Homo sapiens: one gene and its partners. The protein of the gene in region 1 purifies or fractionates together with the protein of each later gene. This does not show direct contact. Each region holds a gene or a part of one and is shown in the gene's direction. Other genes may lie near its edges.

Evidence for each region.
Region 2: the proteins of GNL2 (region 1) and DDX18 purify together in Homo sapiens (affinity purification with mass spectrometry; 2 studies listed by BioGRID and IntAct, with this or other methods). This does not show direct contact.
Region 3: the proteins of GNL2 (region 1) and DDX55 purify together in Homo sapiens (co-immunoprecipitation; 2 studies listed by BioGRID and IntAct, with this or other methods). This does not show direct contact.

The regions. Positions count from the first base shown.
Region 1 is NC_000001.11:37,589,419-37,593,070, reverse strand, and holds part of GNL2 (nucleolar GTP-binding protein 2), read left to right. Parts: intron 1-264; coding exon 265-359; intron 360-2,225; coding exon 2,226-2,365; intron 2,366-3,652. UniProt on the Homo sapiens protein: GTPase that associates with pre-60S ribosomal subunits in the nucleolus and is required for their nuclear export and maturation.
Region 2 is NC_000002.12:117,824,613-117,828,264, forward strand, and holds part of DDX18 (ATP-dependent RNA helicase DDX18), read left to right. Parts: coding exon 1-96; intron 97-327; coding exon 328-489; intron 490-834; coding exon 835-987; intron 988-1,656; coding exon 1,657-1,770; intron 1,771-3,652. UniProt on the Homo sapiens protein: ATP-dependent RNA helicase that plays a role in the regulation of R-loop homeostasis in both endogenous R-loop-prone regions and at sites of DNA damage.
Region 3 is NC_000012.12:123,608,484-123,612,135, forward strand, and holds part of DDX55 (ATP-dependent RNA helicase DDX55), read left to right. Parts: intron 1-196; coding exon 197-346; intron 347-1,455; coding exon 1,456-1,645; intron 1,646-3,652. UniProt on the Homo sapiens protein: Probable ATP-binding RNA helicase. Has ATPase activity and is involved in the maturation of precursor large subunit rRNAs.

The DNA.
Region 1 (3,652 bases):
ACAGTAACCAGATTTTTTAGAACGTCACCATTAGTTGTTATTCATCTAGCAGAAATCATTACGTGCTCTGTTGCAAGAGGTTAAATGGCTTTTGGGCAATCTGTTTCAAATGTAGAAGTACTTTGTGTTTACTGGAATTGGTATTTCATGATCATTTAAAACCAAAGTAAGAAGTCCTTTTGATGGAAAATATATTCTGTAAATCAAACTTCGCTGTTGCCATTTTTCTGTTGTCAACCAATATCTGTTCTTTCCTCAATTTAGGAACAGTCGTGGTAAAATAATTAAACCCCTGCAATATCAATCAACGGTGGCTTCTGGCACAGTGGCAAGAGTAGAGCCAAATATTAAATGGTTTGGTGAGTATTATCCCCTGTTACTTTGCTCTACAAAATATATGCTGAGTGGAAACGGCTAGGATGTTTAAATGTCTAAACAGCAGGAGTTTTTGGTGAGTGAAACCGGCAAGGATTATCTGAGAAAGGGATAAGAAGAATTACTGGGAAAAGTAGTGGTGGTCAATTTAATAAATAACTTCTTTTTGAAGAGCGCTCACCATTAGTAATTGTAATTGAACCCTCTTAAGCAGATAAGACCATCCTTAATGACTAGCATTCACAGACCTTAGAATGCTCATCTTAATCTTTTCTGCTTTCCTAAAGAGATACTGTTGGAGAGGTGGCCTTGTAGGTTTTGTGCATATATCCTTCAGGGTAAGTGCATTAGCCCGAAGTTCCTCTGAAATACTTCTTAATGGGGTTTTTATTTGAACTTGGGTGACAATTAAAGGGTCTCACTGTTGAACTGTCCAACAGTGAATAGAGTATCTTCAGTCTCAGGGTGATCACAGCTTCTTCCTTGGAAAACTCCCTGTCTCATTTCAGTCTGGGCTCTTAACTTTGCCCTTAGCCACTGGTAAATGTATGGGCACTTTAGATGATCAGACCCCAGTGTTTGCTTGGTGTTTGACCTCTGTCCTTGGGGGCAGGTGGCAGCTATCTTTGAGTCTCTTATACTTTCAGTGGGATACTTCCTAAGAACTGCAACACAGAAAGGTGTCAAAACTCTGCAGAGAAGCATTTAGCATGGCTGCTGGGTACTGTGACTCGATTAGACTGCCTGGGTTTGAATTCTAGTTCTGTCATTTATGTGCCAGTGGGCAAGTTATTAAGTCTGTCTGTTCATCAGTTTTCTCATCCCTAACATGAGAATAAGATGAAACCTATCTCATAAGACTGTCATGGTAATCAAATGAGTAAATACAGGCAGGGCGCAGTGGCTCACGCCTGTAATCCCAGCACTTTGGGAGGCCAAGGCTGGTGAATCACTTGAGGTCAGGCATTCGAGACCAGCCTGGCCAACACAGTGAAACCCCCATCTCTACTAAATATACAAAAATTAGCCAGGTGTTGTGGTGGGCACCTGTAATCCCAGCTACTTGGGAGGCTGGGGCAGGAGAATCCCTTGAGCCCAGGAGGCAGAGGTTGCAGTGAGCTGAGATTGTGCCACTGCACTCCAGCCTGGGTGACAGAGTGAGACTCCATCTCAAAAAAAAAAAAAAAAAAAGAGTAAATATATATAAAGTGCTTAGAATAGCGCCTAGCAAATAGTGAGTATAATATAAGCATTACTTGCTACCGTCATTACCACCTTGCTGTTTTGCATTTATGCCGCAGCATGCTGTTTAATTGAATGCTTTTCAGGGTCTCCCTCACAAGATGTTTTCCAGGTGGTGGTGCAGGGCTCTATCTTGTTCCCTTGCATGGACTCATTGGTTAATAGTCCCTTTGAATCCTCATAACCCTAAAAGTGGCTAACTATGACTCAAATTTCAGTGTTTCAAGATTCTCTGTCTATACTGACTGATCAGCTGTGATTGGCTCCAGGTTTCTCTGCTAGATCTAGCAGGTAGTAGGACATTTGACAGATCTCAGTTCCATTCCACGCTATTTATTTCTCAGTTTCATTTAGTTAGGAAACTGGACTTGGAAAACTATTGAAACCCTTTGTGGGTCTGGATTTGTGGAATAGTTCATAGTGTGCAAGTGCGGGAGAGGCAGTTTTTTGGTTTTTTCCTCTTTTAAGTTTGAAAACAGCTCCAAGGGATGGATGGATCAGGTGCTTGGGTAAGTGAGGGTAATTTAAAATCTTGCCTTTCACCGTGTCAGTGGAAGATGGATGCGCAAATATTAACTAAGTGGCAACATTCTTTATTTGTAAAACAGGAAACACACGTGTGATTAAGCAGTCATCATTACAAAAATTTCAAGAGGAAATGGATACAGTTATGAAGGATCCATACAAAGTTGTCATGAAGCAAAGCAAGTTACCAATGTCTCTTCTCCATGATCGAATCCGGCCTCATGTAAGATGTAGGATATCCCTGGTGATGGAATTTCCTGGGCAAACTCCATGCAGATCCCTCTCTAACATATTTGTCTTTTGTTTTTCCTTAGAAAATAGTGACTTTAATGTAGCAATGATGAACTTTCTAAGACCTCTCTTTTCACCTTTTCATGTTTAGTATGAGGTGCAGTAGTGTAGTGGATCAAAGCACAGGTTTTGGAGTTGAGACCTGAATTTTAATCCTTGCTCTATCCCTTCCTGTGCCCTTAGTTGGGTTTCTCCATGAACTTTAACTTCTTTGCCTTGAAAGTATAGATAGGTCGGACACAGTGGCTCACGCCTGTAATCCCAGCACTTGGGAGGCTCAGGCAGGCGGATCACCTGAGGTCAGGAGTTTGAGACCAACCTGACCAACAAGAAGAAACCCTGTCTCTACTAAAAATACAAAATTAGCCAGGCGTGGTGGTGCATACCTGTAATCTCAGCTACTCAGGAGAGGCTGAGGCAGGAGAATCGCTTGAACCTGGGAGGCAGAGATTGCAGTGAGCCAAGATCGTGCCATTGCACTCCAGCCTGGGCAACAGGAGCGAAACTCCGTCTAAAAAAAACAGAAAGTATAGATAACCGACCTCCTTGGGTTATTGGCTACAGATGAAGCATCTGTAAAGCACTTGGCCCATAGTGAGCACATAGCACACCACCTAATAAGAGCTAAATTGATAACAGCTATTAGTAATATTATTTATTTTGGTAGGCAAACTTGTTTTAAGTGGTAATTCCATCAAACTTTGGGACAGCGTAGAATTAGGATTGAGTTGGTAGAACTTTGGTGTTGCGTACGTTCAGCTTTTGTGAGATCCTTGAGATTTTTTCTCAGCTGAAGGAAGGGGTGCTGGTCACATTGGTTGTCAATTGCTAAAATTTGAAGTGCAGTAAGGATTCAATCTGGGTTGAGTGGAATGAGTTTCACACAGAACAAAGAAAGAATCTGTTGTTTGTCTGCTTATTTTTACTTGCATTGAATAATAAATTCCCAGAAATGTAGCCAGTACGTAAGCTTCAGTTCCAGTATGAGGAGGGGAGAAAAACATTGACATGCATACGTGGGTTAAATAGTTCAGGCTGGGCGCGGTGGCTCACGCCTGAATCCCAGCACTTTGGGAAGCCAAGGCGGGTGGATCACAAGGTCAGGAGATTGAGACCATCCTGGCTAACACGTGAAATCCCGTCTCTACTAAAAATACAAAAAAAAATTAGCCGGGCGTGGTGGCGGGCACCTGTAGTCCCAGCTACTCAGGAGGCTGAG
Region 2 (3,652 bases), on another chromosome or scaffold:
GTTGAAGACCTGGCAAGGATTTCTCTGAAAAAGGAGCCATTGTATGTTGGCGTTGATGATGATAAAGCGAATGCAACAGTGGATGGTCTTGAACAGGTACTTTTTATCAATAACTGAAAACTGTAGGGATCTTACTTGGTGTTTTTATGTAATTGTTGGAAGGATCATTCAGAAAGCAAATGGGTTAATGAACTTTTAAAATGCTGTAGGTGAGGCATGACAGTTTACACACTGTGTTTATCAGTGCTCTTGATGAAATTACACAAGTTAGGAAATGGAAAATGTCCACTTGGTTCATTTGTATCTGTCTGCTTAAACGCTTTCTAGGGATATGTTGTTTGTCCTTCTGAAAAGAGATTCCTTCTGCTCTTTACATTCCTTAAGAAGAACCGAAAGAAGAAGCTTATGGTCTTCTTTTCATCTTGTATGTCTGTGAAATACCACTATGAGTTGCTGAACTACATTGATTTGCCCGTCTTGGCCATTCATGTAAGTGATGATGATGAGCTCATTGAAAACAGGGTATGCTTATTAAATCCTATAGATTGTAGGATTGGAGGTATTGCCCTCTCCTGGAAACATTGTTCTGAGTAGTTTGATCACCACTAGATGATGGATCCTGTGTGGGGGAGCGCTGCTGGGTGTGGAGGGGTATGAGGACTTTCGAAGAGTGCAAGACACCATCCTCCTTGAGGGGCTTGCGGAACAGTTGGGGAAATAGGACATAGGCCAAGGGATGAGCTCGAAATAGGGTAACAGTTCCACAATTTGGGGGTTCTACTGCTAGTCTTCCTCAAGATTCCAGCTCTAATGGATGTTTTTATTTAATTCTAGGGAAAGCAAAAGCAAAATAAGCGTACAACCACATTCTTCCAGTTCTGCAATGCAGATTCGGGAACACTATTGTGTACGGATGTGGCAGCGAGAGGACTAGACATTCCTGAAGTCGACTGGATTGTTCAGTATGACCCTCCGGATGACCCTAAGGTAACTGGCATCTTTGGAATATCTTCAGAATGACTCTGCATTAAAAGTTCACTTATTCTCCCAGTTCCCTGACGGAAACTGCATTCCACATTCAAGGTAAAGATCCCTACTATACAGTGACTGCAGTATTTCTCTGGTATTGAAAAGTACTTAAGGCTTTTCAGGGCTCAAACGGGCTGTGCCAGAGGATTGAAAAGGATCAGTGGGACTTAAGTTATGAAAATGAGATCCTTGGAATGATCTCTTAAGAACAGCAGATGCCTGAAGGAAATAAAATTGCTTAAGGAAGTAGATAAACTTCTGTAGTATATGTGGTAGAATAAGCTTCATTGAGAAGTATTTTCAACAAACACTGGATTAAAGCCGTTTTGATGATGAAGCACACATAATACTCATTTTATTAGATCGCTGTTAATGCAAACATCATGTCCAGCCTTTTTTTTTTTTTTTTTTTTTTTTTTTTGGGCCTCAATCATTGGCCTATTGGGGGTGATGTGCACAGAGCGATTGCTGGCCCAGCTTTGTGGGGGTGTGGTGAAGGTGTGTGTGGCCCAGCACCGTGGGACTACACCATCTCAGTACAGACATGCACATACTCAGGATGCAGATACGCAAATGGGCTCATGTGGAAGTCACTGCGTTAACTCAGATTTTCTTTCTCCACCAAAGGAATATATTCATCGTGTGGGTAGAACAGCCAGAGGCCTAAATGGGAGAGGGCATGCCTTGCTCATTTTGCGCCCAGAAGAATTGGGTTTTCTTCGCTACTTGAAACAATCCAAGGTAAAGATCTGTACTTGGAGAAAGATTTCTCTTGGTGTAGGGATTGTTAGCAAGCAACATTTCTACATGTGTCAGAGGAGTCTCGAGTCTGGCCAGTGCTGTTACAACCATTCTTATGGCAATTAAGCAAGTAAGGTTTTATGTACTTCTAGCCCAAGAAGTGAGCACAGAAGGAACTGCCCACATGGCTCGGCTTTCTAGCTCTGTTACCCAGCAACACCTCTGTGTCCCAGCCTCTCCTTTCCTGTTCCCTCCAGCCCTCTTTGAAACCTTCTCCACTCCTTTGAAGCTCCCTCACACCTAGTCATCTCTGCTTCTGCTCCCCTTCTTTCCTCTTACCTCATGTGAAGCAGTGGGGAATCCTTGTTCGCTCTAGCCTCTGCCTCCTCCCCTGCCCTCTGTCTCCTATTCATCAACTCTTGGCCTACAGTCTCTTCCTTGCGGTTGGCGCTTTACCATCTCAAATTTCTCACTGTAAAAAAGTAACTTCAACCTTAAACCTGTTCTTCTACCCCTGCCTGCAGGAGCTACTGTCTGTTGCCTTTCCTCAGTCAGCCTTACTGGAAAAATGGCTTATATTCTTGCCATTTACCTCCCTCTCAGTCCCTAACCAGCCTAATTTGGCTTTAGCTTTCTACTATCACACCAGAATTGAATCCATCAGGACCCTAAGTGGCCTCTTCATTGCTAGGCCATGTGGGGGATGCATATCAGGCCTTCTCCTGCCTGACATTTACATCCTCATTGGCCTTTCTGGCATAGTCTTGATGATAGGCTTCCTCTACCCTGTAACTGCAGGCAGTTCCCTGAAATTGCTCTACAGCTTTTGCACACTTTGTCCAGAATGCTTGGTTTCAGCTCGCCTCTGTCTTTGCTGGGAAGCCATCGCTGATCTCCTGCCTCCTTGTTCCCACAGCACAGGTGCTCATCAGGTTGACATTTCTTTCTTTCTTTCTTTTTTTATTATTATTACACTTTAAGTTCTAGGGTACATGTGCACCATGTGCAGGTTTGTTACATATGTATTCATGTGCCATGTTGGTGTGCTGCACCCATAAACTCGTCATATACGTTAGGTATATATCCTAATGCTATCCCTTCCCCCTCCCCCCACCCCACGACAGGCCCCGGTGTGTGATATTCACCACCCTGTGTCCAAGTGTTCTCATTGTTCATTTCCCACCTGTGAGTGAGAACATGCGGTGTTTGGTTTTCTGTCCTTGCAATAGTTTGCTCAGAATGATGGTTTCCCGTGTCATCCATGTCCCTACAAAGGACATGAACTCATCCTTTTTTATGGCTGCATAGTATTCCATGGTGTGTATGTGCCACATTTTCTTAATCCAGTCTGTCATTGATGGGCATTTGGGTTGGTTCCAAGTCTTTGTTATTGTGAATAAACATACATGTGCATGTGTCTTTATAGCAGCATGATTTATAATCCTTTGGGTATATACCCAGTAATGGGATGGCCGGGTCAAATGGTATTTCTAGGTCTAGATCCTTGAGGAATCGTCACACTGTCTTCCACAATGGATGAACTAGTTTACAGTCCCACCAACAGTGTAAAAGTGTTCCTGTTTCTCCACATCTCCTCCAGCACCTGTTGTTTCCTGACTTTTTAATGATCGCCATTTTAACTGGTGTGAGATGGTATCTCACTGTGATTTTTATTTGGATTTCTCTGATGGCCAGTGATGATGAGCATATTTTCATGTCTGTTGGCTGCCTAAATGTCTTCTTTTGAGAAGTGTGTGTTCATATCTTTCGCCCACTTTTTGATTGGGTTGTTTGATTTTTTCTTGTAAATTTGTTTAAGTTCTTAGTAGATTCTGGATATTAGTCCTAGCCAAAATTGACAAATGGGATCTAATTAAAGAGC
Region 3 (3,652 bases), on another chromosome or scaffold:
AGCCCAGAACCCAGATCCCGTCTCACCACAGCCCTCAGTCTTTCTACCCTGCAGCACTCTTCTACTCTCATGCTCTTCGTTCTCTTCACTAGGGCTTAAATGACTTTGGGGGGATATAAAACTTGGTATTTTGGTAATCATCAACCACATTCCCAAGATCCAGAGAGTTTGGTAAATGTTAACTTTCTTTCCAAAGTGGGAACATCATTGTGGCCACTCCAGGCCGCTTGGAGGACATGTTCCGGAGGAAGGCCGAAGGCTTGGATCTGGCCAGCTGTGTGCGATCCCTGGATGTCCTGGTGTTGGATGAGGCAGACAGACTTCTGGACATGGGGTTTGAGGCAAGGTACTGGACTTTGGACTTCACTGGCTTGAGTGGGCAGATGATACTAATACAAAAGGGGAGCAAAATGGAGTTTACTGTTTCATGACTAGGTATTTTTATTTTTTATTTTCATTTTTATTTATTTTTTATTTATTTGTTTATTAGAGACAGGGTCTTGTGCTGTCACCCAGGCTGGAGTGCAGTGGTGTGATTATGTTCACTGCAGCCTCAACCTCTCGGGCTCAGATGATCCTCCTGCATCAGCCTCCCGGGTAGCTGGGATTACAGGTGCACACCACCATGCCTGGATGGTTTTTTTATTTTTTGCAGATGAGGTTTTGCCATGTTGCCCAGTCTGTTCTCAAACTCCTGGACTTAAGTGATCCTCCTACCTAGGGTACCCAAAGTGCTAGGATTACAGGTGCCAGCCACCATGCCTGGCCTAAGTATTTTTATTAACCACATTTTAATTTCAAATCATTAAGTAGTTTGAGCTTTCAAATTCTACCACGTGATTTTATTCCAGTTCTATCTTTGATCTTAAAATGCACTTTCCTTCAAGTTTTTTTTTTTTTTTTTTTTTTGAGACAGGGTCTCACTCTGTCATCCAGGCTAGAATGCAGTGGCATGATTTCGGGTCATTGCGACCTTTACTTCCTGGGCTTAAGTGATCCTCCCACCTCAGCCTCCTGAGTCATCTGGGACTACAGGCACATGCCATCATGCTTTTTTTTTTTAATTTTTGGCAGAGACAAGATCCCATTATGTTGCCCAGGTTGGTCTCAAACTCCTGGGCTCAAGAGATCTTCCCATCCCAGTCTCCCGAAGTGCTGGGATTACAAGCATGAGCCATCACACCTGGCAGTTTTGTTGTTTTTTAATAAACAGCTTTATGGGATATAATTCACATATCATTATAATTGTATGCTAAAATTTGAGGAACCTTGGAAAAATGAAAGTATAAAGAAGAAACAAAGAATCACCTATAATCTCACCTCCCAGTGTATGTGCTATAAATATTTTGATGGCTTCACTTTCAGTCTTTTTGAATACCTGTTTAGTATCGTGAAGCACTGTGTGTTGATTCTGCTGGCAAGTGAGCGGTTAAGTGTGAGCCCTCTTTTTATCAGCATCAACACCATTCTGGAGTTTTTGCCAAAGCAGAGGAGAACAGGCCTTTTCTCTGCCACTCAGACGCAGGAAGTGGAGAACCTGGTGAGAGCGGGCCTCCGGAACCCTGTCCGGGTCTCAGTGAAGGAGAAGGGCGTGGCAGCCAGCAGTGCCCAGAAGACCCCCTCCCGCCTGGAAAACTACTACATGGTAAGCGCCTGGGCTTGCTTCTTACTCAGCGATAATGACCAGTGCTCATTTTATGGAAATTGTACTGGTAGAATAAATATGTGAGACCCTGTAGCACCTATGAAATGCATTTGGGGACAGAGCTAGCTAGGGCAAATGGCCTGAGTGGTCCTACTCATTGAATGAATAAGTTAAATTGGACATAAATGTATTTTAAGCACAGTCTCTAAGGACAGAGTCTCTGAACCTCCTACCCTCAAGTGACCAAATGTTTCTATTGTACATGCTTGGGGTGTGCTGGGTGCAGCCATGACTAAGCTCTGTAGTTCCTGGGCCCGTCAGAACAGCCTGTCTGACAGAGAAGGGCATAGTTAGATGTGCAGGTGGAACACAGAAAATCAAATGACAGACTCACTCCTAAGGAGACTTTGTGGGGTGGAAATGTTCTGCTCCGTAAATGTTGTGTATTTTTGACCTGCATCAAATATGCTGAGTTTCTTTTTTTTTTTTTTTTTTTTTTTTGAGACAGAGTCTGGCTCTGTCGCCCAGGCTGGAGTGCAGTGGCGCGATCTCAGCTCACTGCAAGCTCCGCCTCCTGGGTTCATGCCATTCTCCTGCCTCAGCCTCCCGAATAGCTGGGACTACAGGCGCCCGCCACCACGCCCGGCTAATTTTTTGTTAGCCCTGTTAGCCAGGATGGTCTCCATCTCCTGACCTGGTGATCCACCTGCCTCGGCCTCCCAAAGTGCTGGGATTACAGGTGTGAGCCACCGCGCCCGGCCGTTTTTTTTTGTTTGTTTTTTTTTGTTTTGAGACGGGGTCTCACCCTGTCACCCAGGCTGGAGTGCAATGGCACGATCTCGGCTCACTGCAACCTCTGCCTCCTGGTTCAAGCAATTCTTCTGCCTCAGTCTCCCGAGTAGCTGGGATTACAGGCATGTGCCACCATGCCCAGCTAATTTTTTGTATCTTTAGTAGAGGTGGGGTTTCACCACATTGGACAGGCTGGTCTTGAACTCCTGACCTCATGATCCTCCTGCCTCAGCCTCCCAAAGTGCTGGGATTACAAGAATGAGCCATCATGCCTGGCCCAAATATGCTGAATTTCTAGTAGTAAATACTGGCTGCTGGCTTCTGTAGTTTCTTCACAAAGAAGTAGATGGGCTTTTGGCAACTTGATTGTTTAGTAATGAGGCCACTCCTCACCCCTGTTCTGTTCTGTCCCATTGCTGGGATGGGCCAGGAGGCACAAATGTAGAGAGCACAGGCTGCAGGGGAGGCAGCACCATCAGGGCGAGGAGGCACCCACAGGCCAGTGCCACTGCTGACGGTACACTGGCCCACCAGCCCGGGGCTGGGGCTTTTCTTTCTCTTTTGCAATAAGCTTTCTCAGGTTAAATTTTTCGTTAGGCCTGGAGGGGTTCCCTAGCTCCTGAACATGTCTGCTGTTCAAAATGAAGGAGGCTGGTCTCGAAACCAGAATGTTCCTATTGCTGCAGACTGTGAGGTTGTCGAGGCTGCTCTCCGGTTTGTGTCAATTTGTAGGCAGATTAAAGGTAGAATGAGTTTGCAAATGAGAAACTGCACCTAGTGTAACTGGAGAGTGTTGTCAAAATCAGATAGGCTCATCAGAAGTGGGAGTTGTAGTTGCCATTGATGTTTCTGACAAGCTGGACTGGGTGAGGGAGGAGGCTAGCTCTTCCCAAGCAGAGGGAAGGACTCTGCATAGGGTAGTGTGGAGAGCATGGGCGCTAGAGCAGGACTGCCTGGTGCATATCTTGGCTTTGGCCCCTACCAGATTTAACCGATGAACTTAGAGGTCCTTACTTGTCAAATGGGGGCCACAGTAGTATACAGCTTCGTAGGGTTGCTGCAGGATTAATTAATTAATCCATGCAAAAATGTTCATGATAGTGCTTAGTACACAATAAGTATGGGTTGAGCATTCCTAACTTGAAATTCCAAAATCCAAAATCCTCCAAAATCTGAAGCTTTTTTGAGTGCCAACATGATGCTGAGAGGAAATAC